4 linked regions of the Homo sapiens genome follow. The protein of the gene in region 1 purifies or fractionates together with the protein of each later gene. This does not show direct contact. Each region holds a gene or a part of one and is shown in the gene's direction. Other genes may lie near its edges.

The links. Proteins that work in one complex are often made in the same cells at the same time.
Region 2: the proteins of CFC1 (region 1) and EDEM2 purify together in Homo sapiens (affinity purification with mass spectrometry; one large-scale study listed by BioGRID and IntAct). This does not show direct contact.
Region 3: the proteins of CFC1 (region 1) and RDH11 purify together in Homo sapiens (affinity purification with mass spectrometry; one large-scale study listed by BioGRID and IntAct). This does not show direct contact.
Region 4: the proteins of CFC1 (region 1) and FRAS1 purify together in Homo sapiens (affinity purification with mass spectrometry; one large-scale study listed by BioGRID and IntAct). This does not show direct contact.

Annotation. Positions count from the first base shown.
Region 1 is NC_000002.12:130,596,226-130,601,808, reverse strand, and holds the start of CFC1 (cryptic protein isoform 1 precursor), read left to right. Parts: upstream 1-2,233; 5' UTR 2,234-2,521; coding exon 2,522-2,544; intron 2,545-2,849; coding exon 2,850-2,899; intron 2,900-2,993; coding exon 2,994-3,167; intron 3,168-3,411; coding exon of another isoform or gene 3,412-3,593; exon of another isoform or gene 3,594-3,811; intron 3,812-3,826; coding exon 3,827-3,941; intron 3,942-4,205; coding exon 4,206-4,315; intron 4,316-5,583. UniProt on the Homo sapiens protein: NODAL coreceptor involved in the correct establishment of the left-right axis. May play a role in mesoderm and/or neural patterning during gastrulation.
Region 2 is NC_000020.11:35,136,581-35,141,432, reverse strand, and holds part of EDEM2 (ER degradation-enhancing alpha-mannosidase-like protein 2 isoform 1 precursor), read left to right. Parts: intron 1-3,427; coding exon 3,428-3,553; intron 3,554-4,852. Other genes in the region: MMP24-AS1-EDEM2 (ER degradation-enhancing alpha-mannosidase-like protein 2), read left to right, coding at 3,428-3,553. UniProt on the Homo sapiens protein: Involved in the endoplasmic reticulum-associated degradation (ERAD) pathway that targets misfolded glycoproteins for degradation in an N-glycan-dependent manner.
Region 3 is NC_000014.9:67,685,009-67,689,860, reverse strand, and holds part of RDH11 (retinol dehydrogenase 11), read left to right. Parts: intron 1-4,656; coding exon 4,657-4,846; intron 4,847-4,852. UniProt on the Homo sapiens protein: Retinol dehydrogenase with a clear preference for NADP. Displays high activity towards 9-cis, 11-cis and all-trans-retinol, and to a lesser extent on 13-cis-retinol.
Region 4 is NC_000004.12:78,476,227-78,481,078, forward strand, and holds part of FRAS1 (extracellular matrix organizing protein FRAS1 isoform 1 precursor), read left to right. Parts: intron 1-1,588; coding exon 1,589-1,835; intron 1,836-3,147; coding exon 3,148-3,492; intron 3,493-4,852. UniProt on the Homo sapiens protein: Involved in extracellular matrix organization. Required for the regulation of epidermal-basement membrane adhesion responsible for proper organogenesis during embryonic development. Involved in brain organization and function.

The DNA of each region.
Region 1 (5,583 bases):
AGCTTAAGCAAACAGCTTAAGCACGTCGCACTGCTATTTCTTGCTTCTCAGTTCTGTCTTGCTGGCAAGACGTTTTTTTTTCCTAGTTTCCACTTATAAAGTGCAGATTTTCAAAATCTTACTCTACATATGAAATGTCATGATGTATTGGAGTTTTTAAAACTTCAAGAAAAAAGTTAGGGAGGAAACAAATGAAATAAAATTGGCAAAGGCTGATACTTAATTGTTGAACCTGGGTTTATTGGCTCATTCTACCAGCCTTTGTGTATGTTTGGAAATGTCCACTAAGGTAAAATTTAATAAATAAACTGTGGGGGAAAGTTAGATTTTAGAGGCTGCTTTTAAAGCTTTACTATTGTCAGAGAGGTTTGGTTTCAATATCACTCTGTAAAATGAACAGTTTTAAAACTTATTTATACAAAAAATACAATCATCTAGCTTATATACATCTTCATTTTAGTATACAAACAATTTAGCTCATGCAAAAGATTCTATTAACTTAAAGTCATAAAATGTACTTACTTTTACATATAATTAAATGATGCAATTAACCAGTAGTAACCACTGAGTTTAAAAGTGTATTTTTCGGCCGGGCGCAGTGGCTCATGCCAGTAATCCCAGCACTTTGGGAGGCCGAGGCGGGTGGATCACGAGGTCAGGAGATCAAGACCATCCTGGCTAACACGGTGAAACCCCGTCTCTACTAAAAATACAAAAAAATTAGCCAGGCATGGTGGTGGGCGCCTGTAGTCCCAGCTACTCGGGAGGCTGAGGCAGGAGAATGGTGTGAATCCGGGAGGCGGAGGTTGCAGTGAGCCGAGATTGCACCACTGCACTCCAGCCTGGGCCACAGAGCTAGACTCCGTCTCAAAAAAATAAAGTGTGTTTTTCACCGGACACGGTGGGTTTGTGCCTGTAATCCCAGCACTTTGGGAGGCAGAGGCAGGAGGATCGCTTAAGGCCAGAAGTTAGAGGACAGCCTGGGAAACATAGCAAGATCCCTATCTCTACAAAATAAAAAAAAAATTAGCTGGGCATAGGGGCGCGAGCCTGTAGTCCTAGCCACTCAGAGGCTGGGGTAGGAGGATCACTTAAGCCCAGAAGTTCGAGGATGTGGTGAGCTATGATCGCCCACTGCACTCCAGCCTGGCTGACAGAGTGACACTTTGCCTCTAAAAAACAAAATTAACAAGGTGTTTGTCTCATGACTTACAGCACTTACAGATGCTTGATGAAGTCCTGGGGCACCTTCCTCCATGTGCTCTGCCCACTCGGGTCTGCTGGCCTTGACCTGGTCCTTGCAGCCCACAGGACCCATTGCTGGGAGGCCCCCCAGGGTAGCCCGGTCCTCCAATTTCCTATTGCTTTATTTAACAGCCTCTTTAATAAACCTCACACGTAAAGATGTAAGAAATTAAATCACCATTAAAGACTATTTCAGCCTTGGAGGAAGAATACTATTTTTAGAAATGAGTTTTTATATTAAAATCACAGAACAATTTGCAACACTGGGTTGCAAAGTGTCTTCTTTAGTGCTGATAAAAGGGGCTCAGTCCCTATTCTGGTAGTTAGAAAAGCAGATTTAGAAGGTGCTAGAAAATACCCCAAATCACTCCTTCCTTGGGTTCCGTTTGGATTCAGCAGGCTCCTCTGGCGATGGGCGGGCGCCGCAGTTGCGCCTGTGCTCCTAAGGGCTCGCCTTAAATACCTGTGGGTATCTCCTCATCATATCGGTGCCATTCATGTTTCTCAGAGATCTAACTGCCAAAGGACTTAAACTCTCTAAGCCTCCCTTTCTCTCTTTTCACGTGGGGGATAATAATAGTGCCTACCCTAGAGGGTCCTATAGTAAATGGGGGCAGTGCCCCTCCCCCACTTGCTGGGCACAGAGAAGAGGCTCCATCTGCAGAGTAAGGGGGCCTCTCTTAAAGCAGGGGTGACGTGCTTTCCCTTATCCTCGTGTTCCCCACTCAGGGCGGCTGGGACCCCAGGCTGTTGCCTGTGCCCCACACAGGAGCTCCCTCTCCCACAGGGCCCCTCACCATCTCCCAGTACAAGTAGTATGCAGTAGAAAATCTCCACCTTCCTGTGAAAGCTTTTTGTTCATGTTGGGATTTTTTTTTTTTTCCAGTGAGAAAATGGCTCGTCACCTTGGATACCAATGTTTTACATCAGGGATTGGTCACTCCTGCTGCTGTCAGCACTGTAAACACTGCTGGGGGGAGTCAGCCCAAGTCCCCACCCCCCAGCCAGGTCTCATAGAGGGAATTGTTCTTCAGGCTCGGAGGGGCCTGCCTGTCACTGCGCCCCCGACCCTAGCTCAGGGACTGCAGAACTCAAGATACCATCCCGTTTCTCCTGGCTGAGGAAGGGAAGGGAACATCCACATCTTCTGTACTCGTCCATTCTGTGTCCCCGGGGCCTGGAGTAAAGACACCTTCAAATGCAGAGACTCTTCAGATTCAGCTTTCCTGGAAACTGATCTTCAATGCACTAAGAGAAGGAGACTCTCAAACCAAAAATGACCTGGAGGCACCATGTCAGGTAAGGACAGAGGTCATGAGATCTTAGAGCCAAGAAGGGGTCTTAAGAGCCTCAGAATAAATCGTAGTGCATGAGCCACTGTTCATTAAAGGAGGTGTACACTTTCTGTCTCAAAATCTTTCTAAGCCATAGCAAAATTAACAAAAACCTACAAGTTACAAAATGATTGCCTTATTCATTATAATTATTTTACATAATTTTATATTTATATATAATGATGGCATTGTATTTTTATGTGTATGTGAATTTCTGCTTATACTTCTAAAGATACTTTCAACTTCAATGATTTTCTTTAAATATTCTAGGCTTCTGTTTACGGTCAGTTTGGCATTACAGATCATCAATTTGGGAAACAGTAAGAAACATTTTATTCATAATTTCAGTTTTAATTGCATAAAATATTTGTTTCTCAATCATTATCAGTCTCACATTTTCAATATTTTTTAAAGGCTATCAAAGAGAGAAACATAACGGCGGTAGAGAGGAAGTCACCAAGGTTGCCACTCAGAAGCACCGACAGTCACCGCTCAACTGGACCTCCAGTCATTTCGGAGAGGTGACTGGGAGCGCCGAGGGCTGGGGGCCGGAGGAGCCGCTCCCCTACTCCCGGGCTTTCGGAGAGGGTAAGTTGCAGCGCTGCCCACAAAATCCGGGGCGTCATCTCAGTCTGCGGACTCAGAGTTTAGGACCTGAGAATATGTAGGATAAATTCAGGATAAAATCCAAGGAGAGCATTTTGTTATCTTCAAATGATGATGCACTTACAAAGCTATAAAGCTAGAGACAGTTCCTAGTGAGGTGTTAAAAAGCTTTACTCTTTCATTGGTAAAACGTTGTATTTGCTCTTCAATGGTTATTTTGCTGCAGATCTAGAGAACTGTGATTTAAATGTGTTGAAAATAAATATCCCAAGCCAAGATAACAGCGGACTCTTGCTTGGCTTCTCCCAGACACCGCGTCCCCAGGAGGCCCCTCGCCGGTGGGTTTGGCGTCATCACACCCGTGGGTGGTCCCGCCCAGGAGGCCTGTGCTTAATCACTGTCAGGTGAAGCCACAGCCAGAGGTTAACATGTGAAAGGAAGGGAGAGAGCAAGCCCGGCTTGCAGGCCGCACCCCTGATAGTTTGTTTCACATCCCTAACAAGCAGGGTTTACCTGAGCAAACACACTTGGCTGGAGGCTGATTTTACTGCCTCCCCTGGGCGGCCACGTTCGGCCCCGTCCCTGCGGGGAGGGCCACGGGCCGCGGGGGGCGCGGGGCTGACGCCCGGGTGACCCCGCAGGTGCGTCCGCGCGGCCGCGCTGCTGCAGGAACGGCGGTACCTGCGTGCTGGGCAGCTTCTGCGTGTGCCCGGCCCACTTCACCGGCCGCTACTGCGAGCATGACCAGAGGCGCAGGTGGGCACAGGGGTGCGCGGGGTGGGGACGGGGGTGGGCGCCGGGTGAGGGACCTGCGGGTCTGGGGGCGCGGGAGTAGGCGTCAGGAGAGGGGCGCGCGGGTGCGGGGGCGCGGGAGTGGGCGCCGGGCGATGGGCGCGCGGGTTGGGGGGCGCGGGAGTTGGCGCCGGGGGAGGGATGCGCGGGTGGGGGAGCGGCGCAGGAGTGGGCGCCGGGCGAGGGGCGCGCGGGCCACCGCATTGATGCAGGTCCCCGTCTTCTCAGTGAATGCGGCGCCCTGGAGCACGGAGCCTGGACCCTCCGCGCCTGCCACCTCTGCAGGTGCATCTTCGGGGCCCTGCACTGCCTCCCCCTCCAGACGCCTGACCGCTGTGGTAAGAGGCCCTGTGATTCGGTCCCCAGCTCACCCCCGCACGCGGTTGCGCCTTCATTGCGGCTCACCCTCCATACCGATCCACAGTGCATCTTCCAGTGCCAGGCCACATAGCATTTAGCAAAGTAGATCGATTCATCATTGAAGAAAGTCGCATTCATTGGGAATCATATAGTGAATTAAATTTTGTTTTGAAGTTCTCATATCCAGATTGCTGAGTTTAAAAATGATTTCCAAACCATGTCCTCACATGTCCGTTTCAGTGAGCAGAATTTCAGGAGATGACCAGCTGGTAATCGGAGAGGAAGCTGGGAGACAAGTTAGCTGCGTAAATCTCAGGTGGTTTCCCTGCACTAGGCCAGCACCATCTGCTCAGCTGTGGGACCAGCAGGGACACAGGCAGGAGCCGCATTTCCCTCTGGAATCCTGTGCCTTCTCTCCTCTCCTCTTTGGTGATCACTGGCTGGGGCTAGCAATGGAGGGCACAGCTAGTGAAGGCCCAGCCTCTTGGCCCCAGCCCGAGCTCTGCCCTCTCCCAGGCCCGGGTGGGCTGGTGGTGCAGTGTCCAGAGGCACACCTGATGAAGCCAAGGCCCCTGATCCACTCTCCTGCCCCCTCCCTCCACTTCAGTCAGCCCTGGGCACCTCCATCTGTCAAAGAGCACAGCCCCGCAACCCCACTTCCCACCTGTCGCTCTCAGGCCGTCCTGCTAGGGCTGCATGGAGGGCAGCACCAGTGGCCCAAAGATCTTCAACCCGGCTCCCCCAGCCTCCCTCTTGCTCTTGGAGGCCCACAATGGAGGAGTACACAATGCATGCTTAGCTCTCCTTCACCTTCCTGTCCTCTCTTCTCTCCCTGGTAGGACCAGCAGTCAAGGGACACTCTTAATAGAGGCACAGCCCCCAACCCCACTTCCCACCCTGCTCCCTTCTCCTCAGCTAGCTCTGCATGGTGCCAGCAGGGAAGAGCACTCCCCGCCTGCCGTGCAGACCACATTTTCCCAAAGCACCCCCTCTTCTATGTGTGCTCCTTTTGCTGGGCCTCTGCCTCTGAAGTCACCAGCTGCTCCTCTATGCCCTAGAGACAGGAGGACACAGATTTCATGGACAGGCATCAGAATCACAGGGGGTGCTTGTGTGGTCCTCACAGATGAAGTCAGTTCCCACCTGCCATTAGGCCGCCCCAGCAGGAATGTGGGGAAGGGACTAGCTGTCATGACTTCCAGGATATCTGGTCATGATTTTACATTCTTGGAAACATCCAGTGCTG
Region 2 (4,852 bases), on another chromosome or scaffold:
GCCCAGTTTGTCATCTGTAAATGAAGGTCATTCTTATACCTTTATTTCTGATAGGAATATAAGTGATACCAGCTTTCTTTTGGTTGACATTTTCCCATGTATCTTTTTCTATCCTTTCCATCTTTCTGTAGTTTTATGATTAGATACATCTTTTGCAAATAGTGTATTATATTTTGTTTATCCATTCTGACAATCTTTAACTGGCACATTTAATCCATTTACATTTACTGTAATTACTGATATATTTGCACTCATTTCTACAGTATTGTGCTCTCTGTGCCGTCTTCTTTTTTTTTTTTTTTTTTTTTTTTTTGAGGCGGAGTCTCACTCTGTCGCCCAGGCGGGAGTGTAGTGGTGCAATCTTGGCTTACTGCAACCTCTGCCTCCCGGGTTCAGGCGATTCTCCTGTCTCAGCCTCCTATGTAGCTGGGATTGCAGGTGCCTGCCACCGTGCCCTGCTAATTTTTGTATTTTTAGTAGAGATGGGGTTTCACCATGTTGGCCAGGCTAGTCTCGAACTCCTGACCTCAGGTGATCCGCCCCCCATCAGCCTCCCAAAGTGCTGGGATTATAGGTGTGAGCCACTGCACCTGGCCCTGTGCCATCTTCTTTATGTTCCTTTATTCTGTCCTTTTTCATGCCTTCTTTAGATTGTTTTCCCCCCATTCCATTTTCCTCTTACTAATATGGAAATTATGCACAATATCTAGCTTTTTACATAGTTTTCCAAGCAAATTTAACAAACATAACTTATCAAAGTCTAAATTTAATGAAAATCTTTGTTCTCCTCCTGAATAATGCAAAACCTGACTTAGAGAACATCCTGACCTATATGCTACAGTTATATATTTTAGTTATTTGTTTTAAACCTTCCATACATTATAATTTTTGTTCTATATTGTTGAAGTTTTGCATTTACACATAAATTTACCACTTTTTTTGTTGTTGTTGGTTTGAAATAGAGTCTCACTCTGCCACCCAGGCTGGAGTGCAGTGGCGCGATCTTGGCTCACCTCCACCTCCTGGGTTTAAACGATTCTCCTGCCTCAGCCTCCAGAGTAGCTGGGATTACAGTTGTGCACCACCACACCAGGCTAATTTTTGTATTTTTAGTAGAGATGGTGTTTCACCACATTGGCCAGGCTGGTCTCAAACTCATGATCTTGAGTGATCCACCTGCTTTGGCTTCCCAAAGTGCTGGAATTACAGGTTTAGCCACTGTGCCTGGCCTATTTACCACTTTTTTGACTATTTTTTCTTTTCGTGTCTCAGACCTTTTCTCTAAAGTATTTCCTTTAGAATTTCCTTTAATGCAGGTGTGTGCTTCATAAACATTCCCAGCTTTTGTTTATATGAAAATGTCTTTATTCAACTGCCTTTGGTTGGCCTTTGAGTGATATTTTTGCTGGGTGTATGGTTCTAGGTTGATGGTTACTTTCTCTTATTGTGTTAAAAACTTTTTCCATTATCTTCTGGTTTCATTATTGTTAAGAAGTAATCTGTCAATGTAATTATTATTTATTTGTAGAGAATCTTGTTTTGGTTTTCACTTTGGCTGTCTTCTCCTTTTAAAAACTTTTTGTTATGGAAAACTTCAAACATAAAAGTAGAGAAAATAGCATAATGAACCAGACGTGCCCATCACCCAGCATTAATAATTATTATTACATGGATTCTGGCTGCATTCGAGATCATTTTTCCCTTTGGTGTTCTGCAGTTTTACCATAAGGTACATACATGTAGATTTCTTTTCTTTCTTTCTTTTCTTTTTTTTTTTTTTTCTGAGATGGAGTCTCGCTCTGTCGCCCAGGCTGGAGTGCAGTGTCATGATCTCAGCTCACTGCAACCTCCGCCTCCTGGGTTCAAGCAATTCTCCTGCCTCAGCCTCCCGAGTAGCTGGGACTACAGGCGCACAACGCCATGCCCGGCTAATTTTTTGTATTTTTAATAGAGACAGGGTTTCACCGTGTTTACCAGGCTGGTCACGAACTCCTGAGCTCAGGCAGTCCACCTGCCTCAGCCTCCCAAAGTGCTGGGATTACAGGCATGAGCCACCGTGCCCAGACTTTTTTTTTTTTTTTTTGAGACGGAGTCTCACTCTGTCACCCAGGCTGAAGTGCAGTGGTGCAATCTTGGCTCACTGCAACCTCCACCTCCTGGGTTTAAGCCATTCTTCTGCCTCAGCTTCCCAAGTAGCTGGGACTGCAGGCGCTTGCCACCACGCCCAGCTAATATTTTGTATTTTTAGTAGAGACAGGGTTTCACCATTTTAGCCGGGATGGTCTCCATCTCCTGACCTCGTGATCTCCACCTCGGCTCCCAAAGTGCTGGGATTACAGATGTGAGCCACCATGCCTGGCCTGCATAGGGACCTTTTATCAGACTTCCACTTGGGGCAGGTCTGACCTTGGTCTCCTATTCCCCCTCTGCAGGGAGGAGGGGAATTTTGAAACTTAGGGTCACCAGTTATTTTCATTGAGAGGGCCACTCAGGATATCTATTTAGCTGTATTTCCAAGAACCTTTGTGTCTTTTTAAAAGTTCTAAGTAGGCCGGGTGCGGTGGCTCATGCCTGTAAATCCAGCACTTTGGGAGGCTGAGGCAGGTGGATCATGAGGTCAGGAGATCGAGACCATCCTGGCTAGCACAGTGAAACACCGTGTCTACAAAAAAAAAATCCAAAAAAATTAGCCGGGCATGGTGGTGAGCTCCTGTAGTCCCAGCTACTCGGGAGGCTGAGGCAGGAGAACGGCGTGAACCTGGGAGGCGGAGCTTGCAGTGAGCCGAAATCGCGCCACTGCACTCCAGCCTAGGTGACAGAGCGAGACTCCGTCTCAAAAAAAAAAAAAAAAAGTTCTACATATTGCATAATAAGTTGAAATAGATAAATTAGTAAAATAAAGGTAATAACCATCATTACCCCTTCCCCCCAGGTATGACAGGTGACTGGGAGACAGACAGAGTGACAAATGGAATGAGCATGGGCTTTGGAATCAAAGATACTCAGCCCTACCACCTACTAGATGGGTGACCTGGGGCAAGTCACTTTATCTCATGGAACCTCAGTATCTTCATACGAAGAGGGGACAGTAGTACTTAGTGCTTGGTACACAATAGGGACTTACAAAAAATAGCCACTGTTCCTGTGATGAACCAAGAGAAGAAAACCCCATAAACTTAACACCATAGAAATATGTGGGATTAAGGGACTCTTTTTTCGCTGGGTGGCTCTAGCTCCTTCCCAGTGAGCCACCCCAACAGAGTGAGGTTTTTGTTTGTTTGTTTTTACCCGTGAAATAGCTTCAGGAGGTCCTGAGAACATGCGCCCCACAATAGAGTGTTTATGTTTAACTCGCACAGGGGAAAGATCCTTGATCCCTTGGTCTTTCCCTTTGGACTGTGCCATTTGCTTTCTGTGCCATCTGTAGTGGTAGGAGGACTCCTGTCTGCTCATCTGCTCTCCAAGAAGGCTGGGGTGGAAGTAGAGGCTGGATGGCCCTGTTCCGGGCCTCTCCTGAGAATGGCTGAGGAGGCGGCCCGAAAACTCCTCCCAGGTAAGACCCACACAGAGATGGGGCAGAGACGAAGTCCAGTAGGTCCTGCTTCCCTTGCTGAAGATGAGAGTGGCAGTGCTGAATTAATTCCTGGTATTTCTCACCAGGTGTATTTGGTCTTTCTACCCACCAGGCACCCACCATGGAAATCAGGAGTGTCCTGGGCATTTTAAGGGCCTGCTGGGGCCCTGACCCGGATGGATGAGTTGACCTCATTATTGTTTGCAGGGGATGGTTGAAGGTGGCCAGCCTGGTGGGTGGAAGGCCATTACCCTTATTTTGAATGAGCCCATTTGTCCCCTTCCAGGTACTACAGTTATTCCACACACTGCTGGAGTAACAGGGGCCCAGGGAAGGGTGTTGGTGTGAGCATTAGCAGCCCTGGATTCTAGACTCAGCTCTGCCAGCCAACATCGTGACCAAGCCACTCTTTCTCTTCATAGTTTGTTGTTTGTTTGTTTGTGATGGAGTCTTGTTCTGTCGCCCAGGCTGGAGTGCAGTGGCACAATCTCAAGTCACTGTAACCACCGCCTCCTGGGTTCAAGCAATTCTTTTGCTTCAGCCTCTTGAGTAGCTGGGATTACAGGCGCCTGCCACCATGCCCAGCTAATTTTTGTATTTTTTAGTAGAGATGAAGTTTCGCCACGTTGATCAGGCTGGTCTCAAACTCTTGACCTCAAGTGATCTGGCTGCCTCGGCCTCCCAAAGTGCTGGGATTACAGGCATGAGCCACTGTGTCTGGCCTCTCTCCACAGTTTGGTTTCCCCATCTATCAAATGAGAATCATAATTTCTACTTCCCTACCACATCGGGTTTTGGAGAGGCTAAAATGAGGTCAGGAAGGAGAAACTGCTTAGAGAACGTCCAACACTTTTAAAACGAGAGGGATTTGTTTTGTGGCTAAGCTGTGTCCAGGGCTGCAGGTCAAGCCTCCATGTTTTTGTCTAGTGGGGCAGTAACACCAGGCTCAGTAGCATCAACTGTACACTGTGTTCCCTTCAGGGTGTGGTGGAGGCTCTGAGGACTGTTCACACCCAGACACGTCACACTGTGCTTTCCATCACCTCTTGGCCATCTCACTTATTTATCCCTTTTCTTTCTTAATTTTTTTTTTTTTTTTTTTTTCAGACAGGGTCTTGCTCTGTCGCCCAGGCTGGAGTGCAGTGGCGTGATCATGGCTCACTGCAGCCTCTCGAACTTCTGGGCTCAGTTGATTCTCCCACCTCAGCCTCCTGAGTAGCTGGGATTACAGGCAGATGCCACCATGCATGGCTAAATTTTTTTTTGTAGAGATGGGGT
Region 3 (4,852 bases), on another chromosome or scaffold:
GTGATTCTCCTGCCTCAGCCTCCTGAGTAGCTGGGACTACAGGTGCGTGCCACCAGGCCTGGCTAATTTTTGTATTTTTAGTAGAGACAGGATTTCACCATGTTGGTCAGGGTGGTCTTGAACTCGTGACCTCAGGTGATCCACCCACCTTGGCCTCCCAGAGTGCTGGGATTTTAGGTGTGAGCCACCGCACCTGGCCATTACTTAACTTTTAGGACTTCCTTCTTCATATGTAAATGGGACTACTTCACAGTTTATTGTCATAATTAATTCAGGCTTCATAAGCAAGTCAAGATTTTTTACTCACAGTGAGACTGAGTATGAGGGAAGGACCTGAACTGGCACTAGATAAAGGCAGTAGACTAAAACAGGTACTGGGAATATGGAGGGGCAGGGTCTCCCTTGCAAAGCATCAAATAAGAGGGAAATATATGCTTGAGAAGGGGAATTTCCAGTCACAAATACACAGAGGTCCTTAGCACTGTCTACTCTGGATTTCTAATAAAGAGAAGGGAAATCGAGGGTGAACTGTGCTAGGAATTGAGGCAGGCAGAATGCAGGCTCAAGGAATCAGGCACAGGTGCCCTATAGTTGGAATAGGATCATCCTACCAAATGAACATCTGTGAGATGGGAAGGAAACTGGTGGTTAGCTCAGTCCTTATGCCCAGTCTGTGCCCAGGGCATGACATCTTTTATCAGTTTAGGATAGATAAGGGTAACTGGATGGTGAAAACTATCCAAAGAGTTGATCAGGGAGCTAGGGTGGCCTGGAGGTGGAAAGATGGGTCCAGTGGTGAGAATTCACTAATACATGAATGAGGTGACTCTGATAGTTGTGAGGATTCAGTGGAAAATCATTATGGTGCAGTAAAAGAACCCTGGTTTGACAGAAGATTCATTCATTCAGCCATTCAGCAGACACGTATTCAGTGCCCATGTTGTTCCGTGCACTGGGTTAGGGGACAGGGGATGAATTGGTGAACAAGATAGGTATAGTCTCTTCTTTGGTTTGGTTTACATCTAACGGGGGAGAAAGACAATTAGCAAGTCTTTATACAAACTATTAAATGTAAAATCAGTCTAGTAATGCATGAATAATTCTCATTGTAAAAAGCTCAAATAAGGTCAGGCACAGTGGCTCACACCTTTAATCCCAGGCACTTTAGGAGGCCAAAACCGGAGGATCACTTGAGGCCAGTTCAAGATCAGCCTGGGCAAAATAGTGAGACCTCATCTCCTCTACCAAAAAAAAAAAAAAAAGAGTTCAAAGCATATGGAAGTATGTAGAATTAAGGTGAAAAACCACCTTCATTTATTCCCCTCTTCCCCCTGCTCTTCTCCCTTCATATGACCATTATCAACAGCTTGTGTGCCCCTTTCCAATAATTTTCCTATGCATTTACATATGTATGTATCATGCACAAGGAACTGAAACTCCAACACAGTATCTTGGAGATCTTTCCATTTAGTACATATGGATTTACCCCTTAATTGTATTGGCTGTGTTGTATTTCGTAGTATAGATGTGCCTTAGTGTATTTATGTATTTCCTTAACAACATCTGGATTGTTTCCTTTTTGTTGTGGCTGTTTAATTATAATTGTGATAAATGTTATAAAGGAGAAGTACCAGGACTTACAATGGATTTTAGTGGGAGTCTTGGGGGGACCTTATTCAGTCTGAGGGTTCAGGGAAGACTTTCCTGAAGAAGTGAGTTGCATGCTGAGCCCCGAAGGATGATTAGAAATTAAATGGATTAGAGGTACTGATAGAATGTGGAGGCTGAGGCCGGGCGCGGTGGCTCACACCTGTAATCCCAGCACTTTGGGAGGCCGAGGCTGGTGGATCACCTGAGGTCAGGAGTTCGAGAACATCCTGGCCAACTTGGTGAAAGCCCTGTCTCTACTAAAAATACAAAAATTAGCCAGGTGTGGTGGCGGGCGCCTGTAATCCTAGCTACTGGAGAGGCTGAGGCAGGAGAATCGCCTGAACCTGGGACAGAGTTTGCAGTGAGCCAAGATCATGCCATTGCACTCCAGCCTGGGCGTCACGAGTAAAACTCTGTCTGAAAAAATGAAAAAAAAAAAGGGCCGGACGTGGTGGCTCATGCTTGTAATCCCAGCAATTTGGGAGGCTGAGGTGGGTAGATCACCTGAGGTCAGGAGTTCAAGACCAGCCTGACCAACATGGAGAAACCCCATCTCTACTAAAAATACAAAATTAGCCGGGCATGTTGGCGTGTGCCTGTAGTCCCAGCTGCTCAGGAGGCTGAGGCAGGAGAATTGCTTGAACCTGGGAGGCAGAGGTTGTGGTGAGCTGAGATCATACCATTGCACCCCAGCCTGGGCAAACAAGAGTGAAACTCCATCTCAAAAAAAAAAAAAAAAAAAAGGAATATGGAGGCTGAGAAACATTCCAGGCAGAAGGAGGAGAATGTACAAAGGTCCGGGCTCAGTTTGAGAAACAGCGAAGGTTACCATTGGTAGGTTGTAGAAAGCAAGAGTAATAAAGATCTGAGCTGAGACTGGTGAGGTAGGTAGATGCCAAACCCTTAGAGGCCACAGTAAGGATTTTAGTGTTTATTCTAAGAGCAATGGGAAACGGTTAAAATTAAAGCCTTTTCAAAATGGGGGCAAGAGGGGTTGCAGCAGTTGATTTCATCAGCAGAGGTGAGAAATGAGGGTAGTTTGGACTAGGTGGTGGAATTGGAGGGTAGTAGAAACTTCTGAGAGAGATTTGGTTTGGGAAAGCTTGTTGACTGGAGATGCATGCTTTAGGTGGGCATTCATCAGAACCCTTTTGCCTGATTGGGCATGTCGGGAACACTGCAAGAACCAGGTTTGGCTTTAAAAGTAGAAATCAATTTGGGACCTCTGAGTCTGCATTACTATGGGTCATCTAGGGAGATGTCGAGTAGGCAGTTGGGAATAATACAGCTGTGTCTGCAGCTGTCAGTCCACAAAGACCAGAAAAATTCTGTTTCTTCAAAGCTTTACACCAAAACTCATTTGGCAGCAAAACATTTCCTGTACTAGGGAGATTAGATTAATAGGCAGTGTATGTATACATTTCATATTACCTTTCTACAATCAGAGAAAAAAATTGAAGTATGTCTGGCCCCAGCGTTTTCCATAAAGGATTGGGGGCCTGAAATAGCATGTGCAAAAGTATCATTTAGCACTTACCATGCATCAGGCACTTTTTTTTTTTTTTTTTTTTTGCACCGGTGTCTCACTCTGTCGCCCAGGCTGGAGTGCAGTGGCACGATATCGGCTCACTACAACCTCTGTCTCCCTGGTTCAAGTCATTCTCCTGCCTCAGCCTCCCAAGTAGCTGGGATTACAGGTGCACGCCACCATGCCCGGCCAATTTTTTCTATTTTAGTAGAGACGGGGTTTCACTGTGTTGCCCAGGCTGGTCTATAACTCCTGAGCTCAGGCAGTCCACCTGCCTTGGCCTCCCAAAATGCTAGGCTTATAGGTGTGAGCCACCACGCCCAGCTGCATCAGGCACTCTTTTAAGACCTTTAACATATATGAACTCATTTAATCCTCATAACTACCCTGTGAGGTTGTAAGTATTATGATTATTCCCATTTTAGAGATGAAGAAATGAGTCACAAAAGGGAACTTGCCCAAGGTTACACAGCTAATGAGTGGAGCCAGGATTTGAAACTGGGCAGTCTGTCTACAAAATCCATGCCCATAACCACCACATTGTGTTGACTCCCAGTGTGTCTGCAGTTCAGAGGAGCAGTTTGGACTGTGGACAAAATGTGAGCACCATAGAATTATGGAGAGGGAGTCTGGTGAGCCACGAGAACTCCAACATTTAATGTTTGTGTAGAAGATGATGAACTGGTCCAGAAAACTGAGACAGAGCAGCCAGAAAGGTTAGGAAAACCAGAAGTGGCATAGGCTTATGGAAGCCAGTGAAAAAGAAGACTTTAAGAAGGGGATGGGCGCCTGTAATCCCAGCACTTTGGGAGGCCGAGGTGGGCAGATCACTTGAAGTCAGGAGTTCAAGACCAGTCTGGCCAACATGATGAAATCCCGTCTCCACTAAAAATACAAAAATTAGCCTGGTGTGGTGGCGCACCCCTGTAGTCCCAGCTACTTGGGAGGCTGAGGCAGGAGAATCGCTTGAACCTGGAAGGCAGTGGCAGAAGGAAGATCATGCCACTGCACTCCAGCCTGGGCAACACAGCAAGCCTGTCTCAAAAAAATGAAGGGGATGGGGTGGGTGTGGTGGCTCATGCCTGTAATCCTAATACTTTGGGAGGCCAAGGTGGGAAGATTGTTTGATGCCAGGAGTTCAAGACCAGCCTGGTCAACATAGGGAGACCCCATCTCTAAAAAAGAAGGGGGTGGTCAACGATGTTAAGTGCTGCTGAGAGGATGAGTCTTGGCTCTGCTGATTCCTGACTTGAGTTTCCAGTCAGAAATACACAGAGGTCCTTAGCACTGTCTACTCTAGAGCCTTCTTAGATCTGTGAGATGGAAGTATAAATTACTGTGAGCAGTACTTCTGATGTCACCATGGGCAAAAGAGTCCATATGTGAAGGTCACATGCTTATTTACATCCTTTTCTGTTTTGGGCTATTCTGCAAAATCAAGTCCTGTCTTACCCTCTCTTCATGCCACCCCCAACCAGGCTCTGGCGTTACGACGTATTCTGTACACCCTGGCACAGTCCAATCTGAACTGGTTCGGCACTCATCTTTCATGAGATGGATGTGGTGGCTTTTCTCCTTTTTCATCAAGACTCCTCAGCAGGGAGCCCAGACCAGCCTGCACTGTGCCTTAACAGAAGGTCTTGAGATTCTAAGTGGGAATCATTTCAGGTATGA
Region 4 (4,852 bases), on another chromosome or scaffold:
TTAGAAAGAGCAGGTTGACCACTGTATAGATGGGCAGGCAGTGCAGAGAGGAGTCTGGTGTCCAGAGAGAAATTTGCAAGTCATCTACATACCAGTGGTAATTAAAGGTGGCAATGAGAAAGAAAAAGGAGAGAGTGAAAGTGGAAGAGAAAGGAGGACTTAAATAGTCAACTTAAATAGTCAACAAATACAGGGCCCCATGTATTTGTCATCTTTTATGGAGGGCACAATGTCTGACACTTAATTTTTTTTTCAAAGCAACTTTATTGTTATTATGGCAACACAGATCTCTGTAAAGAGAAGTGGGCTCTGTTCTTTAATTGAGGCATTTCAGCTGGACTAAGCTAATGTCTCTAATGTCAAATGTAAGTGAGGAATTAGGAAAGAACAGATAAGCTAATGTCTTTCAGCTAAATGATAAGACGGAGGATATTCTTGTGTTTTTCAGGGAAAGACAGAAGACTGTCAGTGTATTCTAGATCTTACATAAAGATCTGTTGAGTGTTTCATTTCACTGGGAGTGTTTTAAAATATGAAGCTTAATAAAAGTGTTATTAGTTGATTAGATATATACTAATAATTTTCTGTTTGAGTAAAATTTTTGCAGATTTGTGTGTCCCCAGACATTTATGTCTGTTTTTTGTACATATTTCAGTTATCTCCGTTTACACAAAGTATAGTCCAGGCTCATTTCCTGCAGTTTCAGTTTTGGGCAAGTCCATAGTCGTGGTTTCACTTGAAGATTTTTAATTTCTTTCTTTTTAAAAAAAAAAAAAAACAAAGTAAAACCAGAATAAGTCCCTATAAGTTCACAATTGTGTACATATAAAATAATTTCTCTGTTTTGTACTGGGCTAAATTGATTCACATTTTAATGGCAAAGGGTGTAGTCAAAATATCAAGTTAAAATTAGTCTACCTTGTTTATAATGTAATTTTCTATGAATTTAAATTCCATTATTCAGTACACTGGAATTCTATGTCAATTTTAATTGTGTAAGTAATATGGTGATACTAATGATAATATCTTATGTTTGTTTGGTACTTTAAAATACACTTAACACCTTCATATACAAGACCTCCTTTAGTCCTCCCAAGAAGCGTATGAGGTAGGAATATTATGACTTTTCTTTAGTTGATGAGGAATCTGATGTTTGTAAAGCTTCATAACCTAATACAGCTTGGAAGTAACAGAACCAGATCTGAGAACAGAACTTCATACTCCAAGGCCAGAGTTCTTCCAGAAAGGGAACTGAGTCATCAAATGATGACTGTTGCTGCCCCAAGTGAGATAATAAGACAGGCTATAAAGAGTTACTACATGTTTTTCTCCAGTCACCAATGGTAGGAGAGATTTTGCTCCTTCATGTCCTTATACAATAAAGCAGCCCTCCTGTACAGGTTAAGAATGGGAAGAGGTGGCTGGGTGTTCCAGGTGATGCAGCAGGGAACCAGGGCTGGGAGAACCAGCTATTTCAGTCAGTGCTCTGCCCACTGGACTTGGATGCTCTTTTCCTATGATGCCCTGGGGAAGCAGAGCAGGGGAAGCTGAGGCACAGCTTAACTTCTTGTTGGTTCCTTTGTGACAGGTCCAGTTTGATGAGCGAGAGGACACCAAGTCCTGCACCATTGTCATCAACGATGATGACGTGTTTGAAAATGTTGAGAGTTTCACTGTGGAGCTCAGCATGCCAGCTTATGCCCTGTTAGGGGAATTCACCCAGGCGAAGGTCATTATCAACGATACCGAGGATGAACCCACATTAGAGTTTGACAAGAAGATCTACTGGGTTAACGAGAGCGCTGGTTTTCTGTTTGCACCTATTGAAAGAAAAGGTCTGTTGGTTCCACAGGTGACAAAGAGCTATAATAATTGCTAACATTTATTGAGTTCCTATTATGTGCTAAGCACTCATCTCATGCATTATCTTAACTCACATGTGTACTTTCCACTTATTAACTCATTTGGTTCCCACAACAACCCTGATGATGATTCTATCCATAGTGACTACCATCAGAAAGCCTCTTTTCTTAGTTCAAGTTGTTAGAGCTCCCATTTACTCTTAAATTGGACTAGAAGACTGGTTATATTTAGCCTTCTAAATTATTCATGAATCAGTATTCTTAATCAATCACCCAATCCATAAAATATTTAGTAACCTTGGTCAAGGAGGGAAGTTACAGTTCATAAGGACTGGCTTTCCATCTTATTCTTGGAAGACAGAAATATGCTGAAAATTTCCCTATGTGACAGTCATATGTAGAGCTCAGATGAGAAATAAACTATGTGTAAGAAATAAAGGGCAATTCTTTTTTTGTTTTATTTTTGACTGATACATAGTAATTGTGCATGTTGATAAAAGGGCAATTCTTGAGGAGTTGGAAATAAAAATAAACATCATATGGAATTTTGATTGTGCAAGATTGAGACTTTAAAACACATGGAAATTGAACCCCCATTCAAAGGCACAACAAGACTGTAAATGATGATTTTGGGTTTCTTTCTTGAATCTGCTGACTGGGTATTAGTGTAACAAATACTGTAGATAGCAAAAACCCTTGGTAATGCCACTTGGAAAACAAGCAAGCCTCATTGATTGCTCTGGGCCACCAAGCCAGGCCCAGAACAGGCTGTCACCAAGGGAAGTGGCAGCCCTAATAAGTAAAGTCATTTGTATACAGTGGCAGATTTTATTTTGTTTTGTCTTTCTCTTTTTAAATAAGCCTGTTTCTTTCTGGGAATTAAAGTATAGAAGTTTATTCAGAAAGGCAGTGAACTGTGCTTATAGCACTACCTTCAGGACACAATTACTTTCCTACTTAAAGTACCAAATATGTGTCATATCTTTCCACCTGCTGTGGTCTTAGATGGTGGGCAATGAGTCTTGCAAATTAACAGAGCACAAAATTCACAGAATAGGAAATCCATTTTGAGTTGTTTGATGAAGTATCTGGGGTATATTAAATCCTCAAGTGGTTTATACCACAGGCTCAAAGAAACTGCAATTCAGGAAGGTTTTATGTCAGAGTTTGAACAGAAATAGTGATGGACTGTTTGGGAGGGACCAAGCTCATTAACTTACCAGAGGTTTTAAAATCTGAGAAGCACTCATTCAAATGCTTTGGTTTTTTGCCATTTGTATTTCAGGAGATGCAAGCAGCATTGTATCTGCAATTTGCTACACAGTCCCTAAGTCAGCTATGGGAAGTAGCCTCTATGCTCTAGAATCAGGCTCTGATTTTAAATCTAGAGGGATGTCTGCCGCGAGTCGTGTGATATTCGGGCCTGGTGTGACCATGTCCACCTGTGATGTCATGCTTATTGATGACAGCGAGTATGAAGAGGAAGAAGAGTTTGAGATTGCCTTGGCAGATGCCTCTGACAATGCCCGCATTGGAAGGGTGGCGACAGCCAAGGTGCTCATTAGTGGTCCCAACGATGCCTCGACTGTGTCCCTGGGCAACACGGCTTTCACTGTCAGTGAGGACGCAGGTAATGGAGAGTGTCTCTGAGTTTCCTTCACCTGTCTCCTGATTCCTTTCTTGAGCAGTTTTCTCCTTAGGTTTCAGAATATCCGGGAGACATTGAGAATGCCATTCCTCAGGGATACCACTGTTGGTCTAAGGCACTATATAATGCTTGGCCAAGACCAAGCATGGAATTTATTATAGAGAGTTCCATCCACTTTTCTTACTCTGATTTGTTTTAGTAAATTTTTGTGGGTACATAGTAAGTGTATATATTTATGGATTATATGATATATTTTGATACAGGCATGTAATATATAATAATCACATCAGGATAAATGGGGTGTTCATCACCTCACCTCAAGCATTTATCCTTTGTGTTATGTACAATCCAATTATACTCTTTTAGTTATTTTAAAATGTGCAATTAAATTATTTTGACTATAGTCACCCTGTTGTGCTAGGGAATACTAGGTCTTCTTTCTAAGTATTTTGTGTACCCATTAACCATGCCCACTTCCCCCCTCCACCACCATTTCCCACCCCCACTACTCTTCCCATCCTCTGGTAACCATCCTTCTACAACATGGATGGAAGTGGAGGTCCTTATGCTAAGTGAAATAAGCCAGGCACAGAAAGACAAACTTCACATGTTCTCACTTATTTGTGGGAGCTAAAGGTTAAAATCATTGAGGTCATGGAGATAGAGTGTAGAAGGTTTTACTCTGGTTCTTGATGGCAGGCAGGGCTGTGGCATAGAGCCTAGAGCTTCATGGGCTGACCTCTGTGGTCCAGAGGGAGGGCCTGGCACTGAGCATCTGGGCTTGTGAAAGGGGAGAATGTGATATATTGAGGATGGAAGTGAAGTATTTAGTGTACTGCTAGCTCCTGAACACTCTCCAAAGTTTCAGTGTCTTCATACAGTGAAACTTTCTCATTCATGTAAGAGCCCAAAGCGATCAGTGGGCAGGTCACTTTCACATGGTATTTCAGAGACTCAGGCTCCTTTCCCACTTGTGGCTCCACAAAGGTCTTGAAGTCTTATGTATGCTGCAGGCAGATATACTGCTGGCAGAGGGGCAACAGCTGTGCTGAGTGTCTCCTGATCTGGGCCAGATCAAGGCCTTTCACATCTATGAAGGGATTTGGAGGAGCACTGGGAACAGGTATTTTTGAGCACTTACCGAATGCCGGGCACCATACCGTGCATGTTCCATGCATTCTCACTTAATATTCTATGGAAGAGAGAACATTATATAAAAGAGCAAATGGAGGCCTGGATAGGTTAAGTCAGTCATCAATGATTAAGCAGCTAATAAAATGGCAAGGCTAGATTCAAAGCCAGACCTTTCTACTATAGCATGTTTCTTTTCCCATACAGCAAA